3 separate regions of the Homo sapiens genome follow, and regions 1 and 2 are each linked to region 3. Evidence: fine-mapped expression QTL. A gene starts in region 3. Each other region holds a variant in brackets. All regions are shown on one strand. Distances are between the middles of the regions. Region 1 has its middle 35 kb from the start of DRAM1-AS1. Region 2 overlaps DRAM1 (DNA damage regulated autophagy modulator 1). Region 3 holds the start of DRAM1 (DNA damage regulated autophagy modulator 1).

Region 1 (6,037 bases), 51 kb before region 3:
TATTAAAAGGAAATGAAAGACTGAACTAAGCTCAGTATTCATTTTAATATGCGTGTTAAAGGTTATGTTTGCAGCTGTCAAAGCACTGGCCAATTCTAAATACATCACTCTTCACCTTAAATCAGATGTCTTAGGTGGCACCCAGAACCTGCTACTCTGGGCTGACCCTGAGTAAAAGGATTGTTAAAGAAGGTGAAGTTAGTCTTCCAGGCTTTCCTGTCACTCATGCTGATATTAGCCTGATGAGCAAGGGAGAGCAAGAGAGCTGGAACCCAGGAGCCAGAGTCCTCACCACTTCCTGCTGCTGCTTCAGCTCCAAGAAGACTAACTTACATGCTGCTGATCTGATATCACATCCATACATGTGACAAGACTGAGGACTGAGGAAAACAACCCAATTCAAAAACGAACTGAACAGATGTTTCTCCAAAGAAGATATATAGGTGACCAATAAGCACATGAAAAAATGACCAACATCATTAATTCTTAGGGAAATGCAAACCAAAATACTATGAGATATCACCTCACACCCATTAGGAAGGCTACTAACCAAAAAAATGGAAAATATGTCAGGTGCTATGGTTTGTGCCTGTAATCCCAGCTACTTTAGAGGCTGAGGCATGAGGATCTCTTGAGCCAAGGAATTGGAGGCCAGCGTGGGTAACATACCAAGACCCTCAAATCTCAAATAAATAAATAAATAGGAAAAAACAAATGTTGGCGAGGATGTGAAGAAATTAGAATCCTTGTGCACTGTTGGTGGGACTGTAAAATGGTACAGCTGCTATGGAAAACAGTATGGTGGTTCCTCAAAAAATTAAAAATAGAATTTCCATATGATCCAGCAATCCCACTTCTTGGTATATACCCAGAAGAATTTAAAGCAGGGTCTCAAAGAAATATTTGTACACACATGTTTGTAGCAGCATTATTCACAATGTGGAAGCAACTGAAGTGTCCATCAACAGATGATTGGTAAACAAAGTGGGTATAAATGTACAATGGAATCTTACTAAGCCTTAATATGGAAAAAATTCCAACACATGCTACAACATGGATGGTGCTGAGACATTACGCTAAATGAAATAAGCCAGTCACAAAAAGAGAAATGCTGTATGATTCCACTTATATGAGGTATCTAGAATAGTCAAAATCATAGAGCCAGAAAGTAGAATAATGGTTGCCAGGGGCTGGGGCAAGAGGGAATCAGGAGTTATTGTTCAATGGGCACAGAGTTTCAGTTTTACAAGATGAAGAGGGTTCTGGAGATGGATGGTGGTGATGGTTGCACAACATTATGAATGTATTCAAAACCACTGAACTGCACACTTAAAAATGGCTACGACGGCCAGGCGTGCGTGGTGGTGGCTCACGCCTATAATCCTAACACTTTGGGAGGCCCAGACAAAAGGATCTCTTGAGTCCAGGAGTTTGAGGCCAGCCTAGGCAACATAGTGAGACCCTATCGCTACAAAAAATACAAAAATTAGCCAAGCACGGTGGTGCACACCTGTAGTCCCAGCTACTTGGGAGGCTGAGGTGGGAGGATCACTTGAGCCCAGAGGTTGAGGCTGCAGTGAGCCAAGATCACACCACTGCACTCCAGTCTGGGTGGCAGAGTGAGATCTGTCTCAAAAAAAAAAAATCACCAAGATGATAAAATTTATGTTATATTTTACCACAGTAAAGTAATAATAATGGTCACCAAGAGTGTTCAAACATAATAATAAAATGATAATAGTAATAAATTAAAATAACTTTTTTAAAAAGTGAGCACTGAGGACTTCTTTTACCCAGCCCTGTGATAGCCTAGATGGTCCTTTCCCTGGGCCTCACCATGACTTCTCCTTTGGGAAGTCCAGACAGACGGACGACAACCCCCAGTCCCTCTTACCGCACCATCCAGAAGCAAAAGATACCAGGAGTTGAGAGTCATAAGAACCCACACCTCACAGCCACCAGAGCCTGAATCGTACTGAAAGCCTGCTGCACCCTGTCTCACTGCGCAGTGGAATCCTTGGCCTCTTCAGTGCTCCTCCTCAGGCTGTGGTGGTTGCAGGAGAACTGATATGGCTTGGCTATGTCCCCACCTAAAATCTCATCTTGAATTGTAATAATCCCCACGTGTCAAGGGGGGCCCAGGTGGAGATAATTGAATCATGAGGGCGGTTTCCCCCATACTGTTCTTGTGATACTGAGTTCACACGAGATGTGGGGGTTTTATAAGGGGCATCCCCCCCTTTGCTCGGCTCTCATTCTCTCTCCTGCCACCATGTGAAGAAGGATGTGTTTGCTTCCCCTTTCGCCGTGATTATAAGTTTCCTGAGGCCTCCCTAGCCATGTGAAACTGTAAGCCAATTAAAGCTCTTTTCTTTATAAATTACCCAGTCTCTGGTACGTCTTTATTAGCAGCGTGAGAACTGACTCATACAAGAACTGATCCCCATTCCCACCAAAGACCAGGTGTATCATACAAACCCTCTCTTACTGTTTCTACTCCTGATTCCTATCACCTGCTCCCACCCCCACAATTCTTAGATGCCCAGACTTCAACCAGGACCTGCCGTTTTGAAGTGGCAATCCAAACATTTCACCCATTTTTCTAAACTTGCCAGCTTAAGGGTTTCATTTCTCAAGGCCTTATATTATATAACCCTAGAAAAGCTGACAAATTAATTCATACTCCTAAGGCAGTGACTGGGAATCACACTGTCAGCATGGCAAAGGTTAACCGTAGGAGTCACAGTCCTGGGTTTGGTTCTAGCCCCATCATTTGGTATCTGGTGACAACCTCGCTACATCTTAATTTCCTCATGAATAAAATAGGGTTAACTATGAGGAAACGCCCTCCTTACAGTGTCTGTGATATAGGAAATAATCAGTATTAACAGAACATAAGTGATCATGTAAGCAGATGAAGAAATATCCTTAGTTTTTAGGTGAAAGTCCCTGAATACCTGGTACTGAAAAAATTATGATGCCTCCCCATAGGTAATTCCAAATAATATTTTCTTTTTCCAAATGACATAAAGGATACATTTAGGCAAACATAAAGCTGATTATTTCCAAGTCAATTTTTAAGTTTCTCAAAGGTAAAGTTTCTTTCCTCTCTCTCTCTCTCTCTCTCTCTGACTACTGAATTGCTGGTGTCCCCCACTCATTGAGTCATTCTGCAGTAACCACCAAGCTACAAGGTCAGGGAGGATCAAAAGGTCTGTGGGTTGCCCCTGGTGTTCTGTCCTGGATCACTTTGCCAGAGAGGAGAGAATATTGTGCTTGATTGTTGATGTCTGTAAAAATACAATCGTCTCCAGCTGGGCATGGTCGCTCACGCCTGTAATCCTAGCACTTTGGGAGGCCGAAGTGGGCGGACCATGAGGTCAAGAGATCAAGACCATCCTAGCCAACATGATGAAACCCCGTCTCTACTAAAAATATAAAGCTTAGCTGGGCGTGGTGGCACACGCCTGTCGTCCCAGCTACTCGGGAGGCTCAGGCAGGAGAATCACTTGAACCCGAGAGGCGAAGTTGCAGTGAGCCAAGCTCGCACCACTGCACTTTAGCCTGGTGACAGAGCGAGACTCCATCTCAAAATTTAAAACAAACAAACAAAACAACAACAACAACAACAAAAATACATCCTCTCAAAAGATAGGGAAGAAGTGTAAGACAAGTAACAGGACTTCAGCGAGATACC[A/G]AAAAGGAAGTGAGTACAAACTGGAAGAGGCATTGACAAAACTTTTGCAACTAATTGCAAAAGTTTGCAAGATCATAATGAAAAACCCAAGTGAACTGGAGACACTCTTGCCCATAAAAAGAAGACATGTCCGGGTTGGGGTAGGAGGCAGAAGATAGGTGAGTTCTGCTGTCAGCAGAAAGAGGAGCACACAGCCTTGCATTCCCTGCAGTAGGTGGTTACATAAAAGAGGGAACAGAAGAGGTGTGTGTAGAAGACCCGTGACCAAGTTGGCAGGCCTCTGTCCCACACCATCTACTGCAAAATCCACATTTGCACCTGATCTACAGTCATGGATGACTGAGTCACCAAGGAAACATGAACTTATATTCAGCATCCTCAGGTTAGAAGAAAATGTGTGTAATCACAAAGATTCCTGGCTTGTCCGAGTGCAGTGGTGTTTACAACTAATTGATCGCAACCAGTTACAGATTTATTTATTTTAGTTTAGTTTTCTTTGAGACAAAGTCTCGTTCTATAGCCTAGATTGGAGTGCAGTGGCACGATCTCTGCTCACTGCAACCTCTGCCTCCCCAGGCTCAAGCGATACCCCCCTCTTGCCTCCTGAGTAGCTGAGACCACAGCTTGCACCACCATTCTTGGCTAATTTTTTAAATTTTTTTGTAGAGATGGGGTCTTGCTATGTTACTTAGGCTGGTCTTGAACTCCTAGACTCAAATGATCTACCCGCCTCAGCCTCCCAAAATGTTGGGATCACACGCGTGAGCCACCATGCCCAGCCCAGTTACAGATTTTTTTCTTCCTTCTCCACTCTCACTGCTGCACTTGACCAGCCTTTAAAAAAAAAAAAAAAGAAAGAAACAAAAAAGAAAAAGAGGTTCCTAACAAAAATATTCAAGTAAAAAAGTTCTAAAGGCAAGATAACATTTGCAAAATAACAGATGAAGTTTCCAACATCCCACTCACTGGAATTTGTCCTAGAGATTTCCTTGCACATGTGTGATATGATGTATGTACAAGGTCATCTACTTGTAATTGCAAAAATTTGGAAACCACATAATTGCTCATCAGATAGGGAACTTGCTAAATAAATGATGGCACAGCCATACAATGGAATACTGTAAGGTATAAAACAAAGCAAATTAACCTTAAAAATGAGGGAGATCTCTATGTATTGATAAAGGAAACATCTCCAAGATACATTGCTATGTCAAAAAAGTAAGGCTCAAAACTGTTCTTACAGTATACTAATTTGGGGTGAAAATGAAAAGGAAAACGTTAAAATATTTGTTTTGGCTTGTATTTTCATAAAAATCTGATAAAAAGTGGATACCTAGGCTGAGCACAGTGGCTCACACCTGTAATCTCAGCACTTTGGGAGGCCAAGGCAGGCGGATCACTTGAGGTCAGGAGTTGACCAACATGGTGAAACCCTGTCTCAACTAAAATACAAAAGTTAGCTGGGTGTGGTGGTGGGCACCTGTAATACCAGCTACTTGGGAAGCTGAGGCAGGGAGAACTGCTTGAACCCAGGAGGCATAGGTTGCAGTGAGCTGAGATCATGCTACTCCACTTCAGCCTGGGCGACAGAGCAAGGCTCTGTCGTTAAAAAAAAAAAAAAAAAAAAAAAAGTGGATATCTGCAAGGAGAGAGTGAATTGAGTAAATGCAGGTAGGGAAAAGCAAAAAGGCTTTTCACAGTATACCTTTTCATATTGTTTTGAGTTTTGAATTGTGAAAATATTACTCAAATTTTTTGAAATAAATGGTTCAGGGGGTGAGGGTTGTGAGTGGGGGCAGCTGAATCCACTTATATAAAAATGATCTTTCCTGTGAAGGCAAGTCTGTACTGAAAAAAAAATGCAAAAGAAAAAAATGAAATAAAAATGACTCTAGATGATAGTTGTTTACTGTATTTTCATATTAGGGGAACTCTTGTGTATCCATTATCAGTCAGGACTCTTACAGGTAAAATCATCTGAAGTCTAACTCCAGTTTATTGAAGTTAGAGACTTTATCAGCTCATGTAACTGAGTCGTCCAGAGGTGGAACTGGCCTTGAGGATGGTGGGGCACAGAGCAGTGCTCCTTGCTGAGGAACTACCTAAACCACAGGCTTTCCAGGCACCCCACGCCACCCCGTCTTAAACCACAAGGCAGATTGTTGACATCTTCCTCAGCATTTTCCAAGCATGGACTCTGGAGGTCACTGCCACCTCCAACATGGGTCTGGAAAACTGCTACCCTTCATTTTAGAAGATGAATCTGGGGCCGGGCGCAGTGGCTCACGCCTGTAATCCCAGCACTTTGGGGAGCCAAGATGGGTGCATCACCTGGGGTCA
Region 2 (5,996 bases), 37 kb before region 3:
GCGCAGTCATTTATGGAGTGAATAGAAAACCATGTGCTTTTCACATTTTTAAGATAGAAAGTGGAATATAACAGATTTTTAACTGCCTGGGAATATACTTCGATAAGCCCTTCCCAGCAGCGGGTTTGTGATAGAAGGTCTCCCCCGAGTGGCTGAAAAGTAAAGTACACCTGAACTGCTCCGCTATGCGGTCTCACTTTCAGAAAGAGGTTCTCTCCAACGGAAAGAGGAACTGAACCCCCTTCGCATGATGGGGCTAATTCCCCATATATAAGAAAGAAAAAAACCTGCCTTTTGCCTAGGTCTAACCTATTGACGAATTTGACCATTTTAAGGTTAGATTTTAAAGAAGGCTTTTTTTTTTTTTTTTGAGATGGAGTCTCACTCTTGTTGCACAGGCTGGAGTGCATTGGCATGATCTCGGCTCATTGCAGCCTCCAGCTCTCCAACTCCTGGGTACAAGCAATTCTCCTGCCTCAGCCTCCCAAGTAGCTGGGACTACAGGTGTGTGCCACTACACCAAAAATTTTTTTTTTTTTTAGTACAGACAGGGTTTCGCCATATTGGCCAGGCTAGTTTTGAACTCTAGCCTCAAGTGATCCACCCGCCTTGGCCTCCCAAAGTGTTGGAATTACAGGCCTGAGCCACCGCACCCGGCCAAGAAGCACTTTTTGATCTCCTGTCTGGATCATTCTCTTCCTCACCATCTTCTGTCTCTCTCTTGTCTTGGCAGGCTTCCATTACCTGCCAGAGTTCTCCATATTGGGAAATCCTGCTGTCTCCTCTAGCCACCCTGGTGTTCCTCCTTTACCTCTTACCTCCAGTCCAGAACAGGACTCAATAAACATTTGGTTGATAGCTGAATGAAAGAACCATCCCTCTCACTATTTAACTTCTTGCCATTGGCTTCTAACCTCGGCGTTTTACTGAAACTACTTTTTGACAAACATCACTGACTCCCTTATTGCCCAAATTGAGGGACTTCATTCCTAAAGGCTATTCAGCTGCATATGCCATAGTTAGCCATTTCCCTTGCCTTTGAAAAATGTCCTTTAGTCTCTGGGATCGTATCTCCTCTCATTCCATCGTTAGGATTAATTGCTATTGCTTCTGCATTTCCACAATGTGTTGTCTGAAGTCCAGTTCAGCATTTTTTTATTCTTCAAAGTATTACATTTAGCCATTGACAACTGGCTGTTTGCCCCTCTGAACTATAAAATCCCTCAGGATCCTCTATCCCATGGCCACCCTGCCCTCTATAATCTTTCACAGTCTTGCATGTGGTAGGGACTCATCAATGAGGTCTACCATACAGCACAAGTCTAGTTCTTCTCTCTGGTCCATGATCCCTTTACTTCTCCTTTGCTGGAGGTATTCTTCCACCTGATCCTTGGGGGAAAGAATCCTCTGTCTCTCACTAACTCTCTTCTTTCCTGGGGCATCCTTGATTCTCCTATAAGGCGTCTAGATGAACCACTACTACAGGTATCTAACAGGATGGGTTGATCTCAATGTCAAACATTTGGTTCCATGTGTTCTGATGCTTGGTCCAAAATGTCCTGGTCTACCCCATACTCTAACAACTCTACCCTACACTCTGACGACTCCCAGTCCCACCAGAAGTCTAGGCCCACCGGAGTGCAAGTGATCCTTCCACCTCAGCTTCCCAAGTAGCTGGGACTACAGGCGCATGCCACAACGTCTGGCTAATTTTTGTAGAGGCAGGATCTTACTGTGTTACCCTGACTGGTCTTCATCTCCTGGACTCAAGCAATCCTCCTGCCTCAGCCTCCCAAAGTGCTGGGATTACAGGCATGAACCACAGCACCTGGCCTAGGCCCATGTTTCTAACCTCGATATCTCATCATATCCTCAGAATCATCAACTCTAACCAAACTCATCCACTTCCACCTACTAAATTATTTATCCCTGTTAGGGGCCTTATTTCTGGTCAAGGGAATAAATTCTTTGGTTCACCTAAGATAAAAACTTAGAAGTCATCTTTGATTCATCATGCCACTTCATTCTTGTGTTAATCATTTGCCAACACCCATCAGATTTCCCCTATTTGAAACGTGAACTAGTAGAACTGCCTTCTCCTTGCCCTCCTAATGCCAAGCTCTCCAAGCCATCCCAGGCATTGCTTCTGTCTAACACTCATCTAATAATACTCTTTCTATTTGCTTTACCGTTCGAAAGTCTGCAGGTTGGGCGTGGTGGTTCACGCCTGTAATCCCAGCACTTTAGGAGGCCAAGGAGGGCAGATCACGAGGTGCAGAGATCAAGACCATCCTGGCTAACACGGTGAAATCCCGTCTCTACTAAAAATACAAAAACTAGCTGGGCATGGTGGTGCACGCCTGTAATCCCAGCTAGTGCCTGTAATCCCAGCTATTTGGGAGGCTGAGACAGGAGAA[C/T]TGCTTGAACCTGAGAGGCAGAGGTTGCAGTGAGCCGAGATCGCGCCATTGCACTCCAGCCTAGGCAACAAGGGCGAAACTCCGTCTCAAAAAAAAAAAAAGTCTTCAAAGTCTTACTCTGGTCACCTAGGCCAAGTACAAGCCTCTCTGCCTGCCTCTTACAGCCACTACACCCTTGCACAGTTATCCCCGGCTGCAGTGATTTCTCACTCTATCCTGAAATGAACTATCCACCACACTGGAGCTGGTATCATCCTCTCTACTTAACATTCCACGCTCCCTTTCACCACCAAACACCTTCATTCACACTGTCCCTCTACCCTCTTTTACTAAAGATAGATAGTTGAAGTGTTTAAGAAAGAAATTAAAGGCCAGGTGCGGTGGCTCACACCTGTAATCCCAGCATTTTGGGAGGCCGAGGTGGGCAGATCACGAGGTCAGGAGATCGAGACCATCCTGGCTAATACGGTGAAACCCCATCTCTACTAAAAATACAAAAAAGTAGCCGGGGGTGGTGGCAGGCGCCTATAGTCCCAGCTACTCAGGAGGCTGAGGCAGGAGAATGGCATGAACCCGGGAGGCAGAGCTTGCACTGAGTCAAGATTGTGCCACTGCACTCCAGCCTGGGCGGCAGAACGAGACTCTGTCTCAAAAAAAAAAAAAGAAAGAAAGAAAAGGAAGAAATTAGAGGGACGGGTGCGGTGGGTCACGCCTATAATCCCAGCACTTTGGGAGGCCGAGACGGGGGGATCACTTGAGGCCAGGAGCTCCAAACCAGCCTGGTCAACATGGGAAAAACCCTGTCTCTACTAAAAATACAAAAATTAGCCAGGCATGTGGCGCACGCCTGTGGTCCCAGCTACTCGGGAGGCTGAGGCACAAGAATCACTTGAACCCAGGAGGCAAAGGTTGCAGTGAGCTGAGATCACGCCACTTCACTCCAGCCTGGGTGACAGAGCGAGACTCTGTCTCAGAAAAGAACAAAACAAAATCAAAAATTAGCTGGGCCTTGTGGCAGGTGCCTGTAGTCCCAGCTACTTGGGAGACTGAGGCAGGAGAATCGCTTGAGCCTGGGACACAGAGGTTGCAGTAAGCTGAGATTGCACCACTGCATTCCAGCCTGGGCAACACAGCAAGACTCTGTCTCAAAAAAAAAAAAAAAGAAGAAGAAGAAGAAAGAAAGAAATTAGGAACTCAAAATTTTGAAAATACTTCCAGGAAGCATTTGGAATTACCCTGATAGCTAATTACTACATACTGCCAAATGATTGGACAGTAAATTGATTACATGCCATGTTTATTTGACATTTTGCAACTTGTTCTAAGGAACGGCAGTGATCTTCCCTATGCCTAGCCTGGCCACAAGCTCACATAACCACGTCCGACAACCACATTCACAACAACTTAAATGTTACCTTTTCTCTTGGATTCCACTCCAGCTTGGTTATGGAAATTAGTGAAGCACAGACAATCACTGAAAGAAGTAAACAGTTAAGGAAACTACAGCACACAACAGTTCCTTTAATGTTAAGACTACATTATTCTCCTAATAACATAATCATTATAAGGTGTTAAAATGTTAATACCAACATTTCTATCATCAATTAAAATGTTAATACCAACATTTCTACAATCAAACCAGTTATATTAGCTTCTTATAAACTCAAACTTCAAATTCAATGATGAGAGTTAAATCACAACACGGAAATACCTTCGCAATAGTTTTCCAGTGTGTATAGTAAAATTTATTAAAACTTGTCACTACATTTTGCACAACCCTACATGTTTCTGGATCTTCCCATTTAAACTAGCTGTTTAAATTCGGTCAAAATGACTGACGCAGCAGTCCAGGATGGTTCTTTTTGAATACTTCCCACTGAATAAAAATACTTTTTCCCTAAAATACTATTTTCCTTTCCTTTTTTTTTTTTTTTTTTTTTTTGAGACGTACTCTCGCTCTGTCACCCAGGCTGGAGTGCAATGGCGCGATCTCAGCTCACTGCAACCTCCACCTCCTGGGTTCAAGCATTCTCCTGCCTCAGCCTCCTGAATAGTTGGGATTACAAGCACCCACCACCATGCCTGGCTAATTTTTTGTATTTTTAGTAGAGACGGTGTTTCTCCATGTTGGTCAGGCTGGTCTTGAACTCCTGACCTCAGGTGATCTGCCCACCTCGGCCTCCCAAAGTGCTGGGATTACAGGCATGAGCCACCGTGCCCGGCCTAAAATACTATTTCCAAGGTAACAGCTTTAAGGAAAATTTTAAATTCCAAAGTGCCAAGGCTCATATACAAAAACAAGCTACAGAAACTCAAACTATTATCTTTAAAAAACAGACTTCTGTTGGGTAATTGGGTATAAGGTGAGCCCTTCCTTCCTGGACCAAAGATCTGGCAAATCAAAGAGATTCGCCCCATATCAGACTTCAGGGATGACTGACACATGCCTACAGTCCAGCCTAATAATGCCAGGGGCTGAGGCTCCTATCTTCCACCAGCAATACTTTCTGCATGAAGGCAGTGATAACCATTTTGATTGAACTTAGAATGCAAAAAAGAAAGCTAGAGAGAAATGGGATGCTCTAAAAAGTCTGCAAAATATTAGAAATTCAAAATGTTAGGCCGGGCGCAGTGGCTCACACCTGTAATCCCAGCACTTTGGGAGGCTGAGGCAGGCGAATCACCTGAGGTCAGGAGTTCGAGACTAGTCTGACCAACATGGTGAAACCCAGTCTCTACTAAAAACACAAAAATTAGCTGGGCATGGTGGCGTGCACCTGTAATCCCAGCTACCTGGGAGGCTGAAGCAGGAGAATCGCTTGAACCTGGGAGGTGGCAGTGAGCTGAATTTGCACCACTGCACTCCAACCTGGGCAACAGGGTGAGACTCTGTCTCAAAAAAAAAAAAAAAAAAAATGTTGAGCCAAGGAAAGTTTAGAGCCTCCTCTGAATTCAGAGTCAGCGTCATCTCTCTTAACTCCAACCCCCCGCAAATTGTGCAGAGTTTAATGCTTCTGATTCTCAAAATAAAAGAAGTAGAGAGCACAGAAGATTCTCTGATCATTTCATCACCTCACATCTGTTTCTAATAGTTTAAAAGCCTCTTAATTATTTCGTTTATTTATTCTTAGCTCCATCTTCAGTGCACCAGGTACCATTCTGGTCTGGGGGTGGGAGAAGGGAAAACTTGGTCTCAGCTCTCAGAAATATCACAACTTTGTTGGACCAGACCCAGAGAATGTACCATAGTAGACAGAAAAGAACTGGGTACAGCAATGACTGTAAGGGAAAATTATTAATTCAGAATGGAATGGGAGAAAGCTTCATTCAGTGAAACTTAATGTAAGTTGTGAAGTTTAAGGAGCTCTCTAGAGCAGCACCATCCCACAGAAATATGTGTAATTTTTAATTTTCTAATATCCAAATTTATTTATTTATTTATGTATTTGAGATGGAGTCTCGCTCTTTCACTCAGGCTGGAGTGCAGTGGTGTGATCTCAGCTCACCTGCAACCTCCACCTCCTGGGTTCAAGCGATTCTCCTGCCTCAGCCTCCTCAGCAGCTGGGATTACAGGTGCC
Region 3 (6,037 bases):
GGAGTGCAGTGGCACAGTCTCGGTTCACGGCAACCTCTGCCTCCCTGGTTCAAGCGATTCTCATGCCTCAGCCTCCTGAGTAGCTGGGATCACAGGAATGTGCCACCACGCTCAGCTAATTTTATATATTTTTAGTAGAGACTGCACCCAGCCTTCTTCTCTATGTGTGGTTCTTATCCACATCTTGTTGCTGCACCAAGGACTTGTTTTCTAGGAGCGGGCAGGGGCAATCCAGTGCTCCGGCTGCTCAGGTAAGCAGAGAGCAAACAACCTAAAAGACCCAGGCACACATGGGCAATCAGTACAAATGTTTGTTGTGTGTTGGCTGAGAACTCCTGGCAACAAGGGGGCATGCCTTTTTCTCCTGTAATTCTGCTTTTCCTGAAGGCTTCCTTGTTAAATTTTAAACCCCTTCCTTGTAGGGTCTGTGATTTGAGCATCTCATAAGTGGTTCACCTTGTCAGCTTATTTTCCCATTTCTGAATGTCTCCCATTTCAAGTTCACCTTAGAGTGATATTAATCACAACTACATCAGACACCTCTATGAACATTCAAAACCTGCCTTTGACAGCCTGGCCAATGAATATCACGTATTATCTGTCCTCAACCTTCAGATCTGGGACAAACATGACTACTGTTTTCTCAATAAGAAGCACTGCAGGCTGGGTGTGGTGGCTCACGCCTGTAATCCCAACACTTTAGGAGGCTGAGGCAGGTGGATCATCTGAGGTCAGGAGCTTGAGACCAGCCTGGCCAACATGGTGAAACCCCGTCTCTACTAAAAATACAAAAATATTAGCTGGGCGTGGTGGCAGGTGCCTGTAATCCCAGCTACTTGGGAGGCTGAGTCAGGAGAATTGCTTGAACCAGGAGGTGGAGGTTGCACTGAGCCGAGATTGCACCATTGCACTCCAGCCTGGGCGACAGAGCAAGACTCTGTCTTAAAAAAAAAAAAAAAAAAAAAAAAAAAGGAAGCATTGCAGGACACAGCAAGATGCCATCTCTACAAATACAAAAAAAAATTAAAAATTAGCTGGGCATGGTTGTGCATGCCTATCTACAGTCCCCAGCTATTCAGGAGGCTGAGGTGGGAGGATCAATGGAGCCCAGGAGGTCGAGGCTGCAGTGAGCTGTGATCCCACCACCACACCACAGACTGGGCAACAGAGCGAGACTTTGTCTGAAAAAACAAACAAACAAACAAACAAAAGAAGCAGCACTGCAGGTAGAGCAGCTCTTTACCTTTTTTTTTTTTTTCTGAGATGGAGTCTCGCTCTGTCACCAGGCTGGAGTGCAGTAGCTCTGTCTCGGCTCACTGCAACCTCTGCCTCCCGGGTTCAAGCAATTCTGCCTCAGCCTCCCGAGTAGCTGGGACTACAGGCGTGCACCACCACGCCCAGCTAATTTCTGTATTTTTAGTAGAGATGAGGTTTTACCATGTTGGCCAGGATGGTCTCGATCTCTTGACCTCATGATCCGCCAGCCTCGGCCTCCCAAAGTGCTGGGATTACAGGCGTGAGCCACTGTGCCCAGCTGAGCAGGTCTTTACTTTTACACAAGTCTAGAAGGATCTATCCTGCTTCAGAAGCAAGATGATGGCACTTGGGCCTGAGATGTGCCATGAGAAACCAAGCCTAGGTTTCTTCCAAGCATAATACCAGATGGGAGGGCCAGGCGTGGTGGCTCACGCCTGTAATCCCAACACTCTGGGAGGCCAAAGCAAGGGGAATGCTTGAGCCCAGGAGTTTAAGACCAGCCTGGGCAATATAGTGAGACTTTGTCTCTACTGAAAATAAAAAATAATAACAATAAATGGAAAAAACCGAAAGGCCAGATGAGAACATCTTGATATACATAACATCTCCTTTCATAGGCAAAAACCACCATCATTACTGCAAATTTGCACTATTCTACCTATTGCTGTATTCCCTGCATCTTGTAAATGCTGGTTCCCTGGGAACACTGGCTCACACCTGTAATCCTAGCATTTTGGGAGGCCAAGGCAAGAGGATCACTTGAGGTCAGGAATTTGAGACCAGCCTGACCAACATAGTGAAACCCTGTCTCTACTAAAAATACAAAAAAATTAAGCCAGGTGTGGTGGTGCACGCCTGTAATCTCAGCTACTTGGGAGGCTGAGGCAGGAGAATCGCTTGAACCCGGGAGGCAGAGGTTGCGGTGAGCCGAGATTGTGTCACTGCACTCCAGCCTGGGCGACAGAACAAGACTCTGTCTCAAAAAAATAAAAAAAATTTTAAAAAATGCTAGTCCCCTCTTGCTCGATCTTTGTTTCCCCTTTCTCCACACTCCTCACCCCCACCCCCAAAAAAAGGAAAAAAACAAACAAACAAACAAAAAAACACAGAACATTGCTCACCAGACAGAATGGCTGCAGGGAAGAAGACGCCCTACATTTTCTATCATAGCAGTAACAAACCTTGGGTGTCACCAACCTTATCATCCGTTCACCAACCAATGCCTGTCCAGAGGGGTCACACTACTTAGATAAGGATGGATGGTTCTAACGTTTAAAGAATCCTGCCACTATGAGAAAGGCACTGAGCTGGAACCCACATAGGAGGATCAGACCACTGTCCCTGGCACTGAAGTGCCCCTCAGGAAGGTAGAGGCCAAAGCACAGGAAAAGTGAATGGGTAAAATAACACAAAAGATGTCACAAGTTGTTGACAAGTTGAGGACTTTGGGGTCACAGTGCCCAGAGGTGTCTGGTGCAGCTCCAGAGAATTTAAGCCAGACTCCCAGAGACCTGGGGGCAGCACAGTGTTGCTTTCTGCATGGCCGGGTGTGAATTCTGCTCCTACCATTAACTAGTGTGACATCAGTGTCACGTTGATGATATTTCATCAACTTTACACCACCGCTCGCTTGCGGGAATAATAAGCCCAAACATCCACTTCAAGGGATGTTGGGATGCAGAAGTGAAAATAGTGGCTGTTTAGCATATACCTGGATCTACCTCTTGTATAATATATGTCATCTATCAGAACCCATCTTGTTTCAATATCGCCTAAGAACGTCCTGCTGAGATTCTGTCCCATACCCAGAATGAAAGCTCTACCATCTATCCTGAACCTCTCCTTGCTGCCACCCTGTTCCATGCTCCGGGTACAGGCAGAAGTGCTCAGCGCCGCACCCGCTGCCTCCCTAAACATCCCAGGCTATCGGGAGCACCTCTCCTCCTGCTCCCACCTCTGCCTGACCACACGACGCCCCAAGCTGGGTCCGGACGCCTTCCCTCCCCGTCGGCAGCGCTCCCTGTGGTCCCTGTGCCTGCTCCTGGGGCCCTGACGCCCACCCTGCCACTCACCTGATATACGGGAGGAAGGGGTTGACGTGCCCGGAGAGCACGGCGACCACGTAGGAGATAATGAAGGCGGCTGACGACCAGGTCACCAAGAGGAAGGGGACGAAAGCCATTCCCCTCAGGAAGCACAGCATCGCGCCGCCGCCGCCGCCGACGGAGTGCTGCGCCCAGCGGGGCCGGGCGCCGGGTTGCTCCGGGCTGCCTGGAGGCGGCGGCCGGGCGCGTACACTCACGGACGGTGGGAGGGGAGGCTCCGCGACGGCCGGGGCAGGCCCAGCCCCGGAGGGAGGGGAAGCGCGAGGAGCGGAGCGAGGCTGCGGGCGGCGAGGCTGCCGGGCCAGAGTGGGTGGGGCGCGGGCTGCCCGGGCTTGTTGCGAAACGAGTGAAGTCACAAAGCGGCCCGGCAGGGTCGGAGGCGCCCGGCGAGCTCCAAGCGGACGCGACTACGGAGCCGCCGGAGGGGACGCGGGGTCGGGTTCCTTTCGCTTTTGGTTTGGACACTCGGCGGAGGCCGGGTTGGGCGCGGACGGGCGGCGTGGGGTCACTGGCGGGGACGCCCGCTCTGGCCTTCCCACTCTGGCCCTACCGCGCTGGCTCTTGCGCAACTCTGGAGAAAAGGATTTATTTCTCCCAACCCCTCCCTCCCGGGGGATTTCCGGAGTGCCGGGCCTCGCACCCCGAGGGCGCCCCCTCCGAGGTCCCGCCGCCGGCGCTTCGCAGCAGTGAGAGTGGCCACCGCGTGGTGACACCCATGCCATCCGGTCGCGCTGCTGCTGCGGGGGTCGGGCAGAAGTGTTCAATGAGGTTCGCCAGGTCACGGGGCGCAGATGTGGCTCCCACCTCAATGGTGAACACCCGAAAACCCAGACAGGGTGGGAACGGGTGGGGTGGAGAGTACGCGGGTGGGGTGCGGGGCAGGCGGGTGGGACTGCGCGCCCACGGAGCCGGGAGGCCCATTGTGCTGCTTTCCAGGAGAGCGCAACTGGAGAATATTTCCTGGAAATAAGATTTCCCAGGCCGGGCGCCGTGAATAGCCATCACTTTGGGAGGCATCCAAAAGCCATCACCCCTGGAATGCCACCACTTTGGGAGGCCGAGTTGGGAGGATCGCTTGAACCCAAGAACTAGAGATCAGCCTGGGTAACATAGCGAAACCCCTCTTCTACAAAAAAAAAAAAAAAAAATGAAAAAGAAAAAAAGCCGGTTCCAGTTACTCGGGAGACTGAGTTGGGATGATCACTTGAGCCTTGGGGGTCGAGGCTGCAGTGAGCCTTTATCACACCACTTCACTCGGCCTGGGTGACAGAGCAAGACCTTGTCTCAAAAAACAAACAAACAAAAAAAAAACAAAAAAAACTCCCCTCCAGGTTCTGGAGTAGCCCAGACTCGGAGCCTTGGCCTAAGATGATTAATAGTGACTTGATACATTTCAAGCCCTGTGAAAGGGATTTGTGTTCTGGAGGCACTTATAATATAAGCACATGATTTTGATAGTTTAGGGAGTCTGAGCCCAACATATGTGGCCAAAATTGTTGGGTCATTGGTGACCAAAGATAGGTTCCTTTCAGCCACAAACACATTTCATGGGCGCCATGCTAGGCTACAAAGATGAAATAGTAATAGTACCCTCAGGACGAGGACACTCATAGATCAAAATAACAAAATTAGGCCAGGCGTGGTGGCTCATGCCTGTAATCCTAGCACTTTGGGAGGCCAAGGTGGGTGGATCACCTGAGGTCAGGAGTTCGAGACCAGCCTGGCCAACATGGTGAAACCCCATCTCTACTAAAAATACAAAAAATTAGTCAGGCATCATGGCTCACGCCTGTAATCCCAGCTACTCAGGAGGCTGAGGCAGGAGAATCGCTTGAACCTGGGAAATGGAGGTTTTCTCAGTGAGCTGAGATCACACCACTGCATTTCAGCCTGGGTGAGAGAACGAGACTCTGTCTCAAAAATATAAATAAATAAAAACAAAATTATGTTATGTGGTTTATTAAATGGAAAGGAGAGGATTTTAAAAAGTAGAGACATGCCCAGAGCTGAGGGCCAGGGGCCTGGGCTCAGAGGAAGGACCACGGAGGTTTTCTGACAGATGACATCAGAGTTTTCAAAAGGAAGTAATTACTAACCAGGCAAAGAAAAATAAGATTAGCATTCCAGGCCCAGAAAACAACTGGAGGAAATGCATACACAGAGCTTGCTTCCCTGGGACTATGAAAGCACTTAAATAAGTGTGAGGCAGCAAATGGAGAGAGAAACAAAGAGGCAAAGTCACCAGAGTCCTGCTGAGAATCTTGGATTATTTTTGGTATTAAGGAGAAAGTAAGAACATGGGCAGACTAGTATTTCAAGAGATCACTGTGGCCGTGGAGTGAGTGCCCGCCATACAAAACAAAATAGAAAATTTAAAATAAGGCTTTTTAAAAACCACAAAAGCTGGCCAGGCATGGTAGCTCACAGTTCTGTAATCCCGGCGCTTTGGGAGGCCGAAGCCTGGACAATATAGTGAGACCCGCAACCATATCTACAAAAAATTTAAAAATTAGCTGGGTGTGGTGTTGCATAACCTGTGGTTCCAGCTACATGAGAGGCTTACGTGGGAGGCTCACTTGAGCCCGGAGTTTGAGGCTGCAGTGAGCTATGATCACACCACTGAACTCCAGCCTGGATCACAGATCGAGACTCTATTTCAAAAACAAATAAAAATT

Evidence for each region.
Region 1: its variant is fine-mapped to the expression of DRAM1 in whole blood (GTEx, PIP 0.97).
Region 2: its variant is fine-mapped to the expression of DRAM1 in whole blood (TOPMed, PIP above 0.99).

What each region holds. Positions count from the first base shown.
Region 1 is chr12:101,925,922-101,931,958 of GRCh38, reverse strand. No RefSeq gene overlaps it. Among named protein-coding and RNA genes, the nearest start is that of DRAM1-AS1, 35 kb to the left of the region's middle. RefSeq lists enhancers at 289-408, 1,228-1,307 and a silencer at 1,518-1,567. The variant A/G (reference allele first, on the strand shown) is at 3,698.
Region 2 is chr12:101,912,069-101,918,064 of GRCh38, reverse strand. DRAM1 (DNA damage regulated autophagy modulator 1) reads right to left here. Exons shown (of 7, transcript NM_018370.3): 5 at 3,833-3,891. Among named protein-coding and RNA genes, the nearest start is that of DRAM1, 37 kb to the right of the region's middle. The variant C/T (reference allele first, on the strand shown) is at 2,418.
Region 3 is chr12:101,875,213-101,881,249 of GRCh38, reverse strand. DRAM1 (DNA damage regulated autophagy modulator 1) reads right to left here and starts at 3,670. Exons shown (of 7, transcript NM_018370.3): 1 at 3,330-3,670. The coding sequence starts at 3,460. RefSeq lists enhancers at 2,784-2,833, 2,974-3,063, 2,702-3,483, 3,644-3,693, 3,484-4,266 and silencers at 3,284-3,623, 3,874-4,033.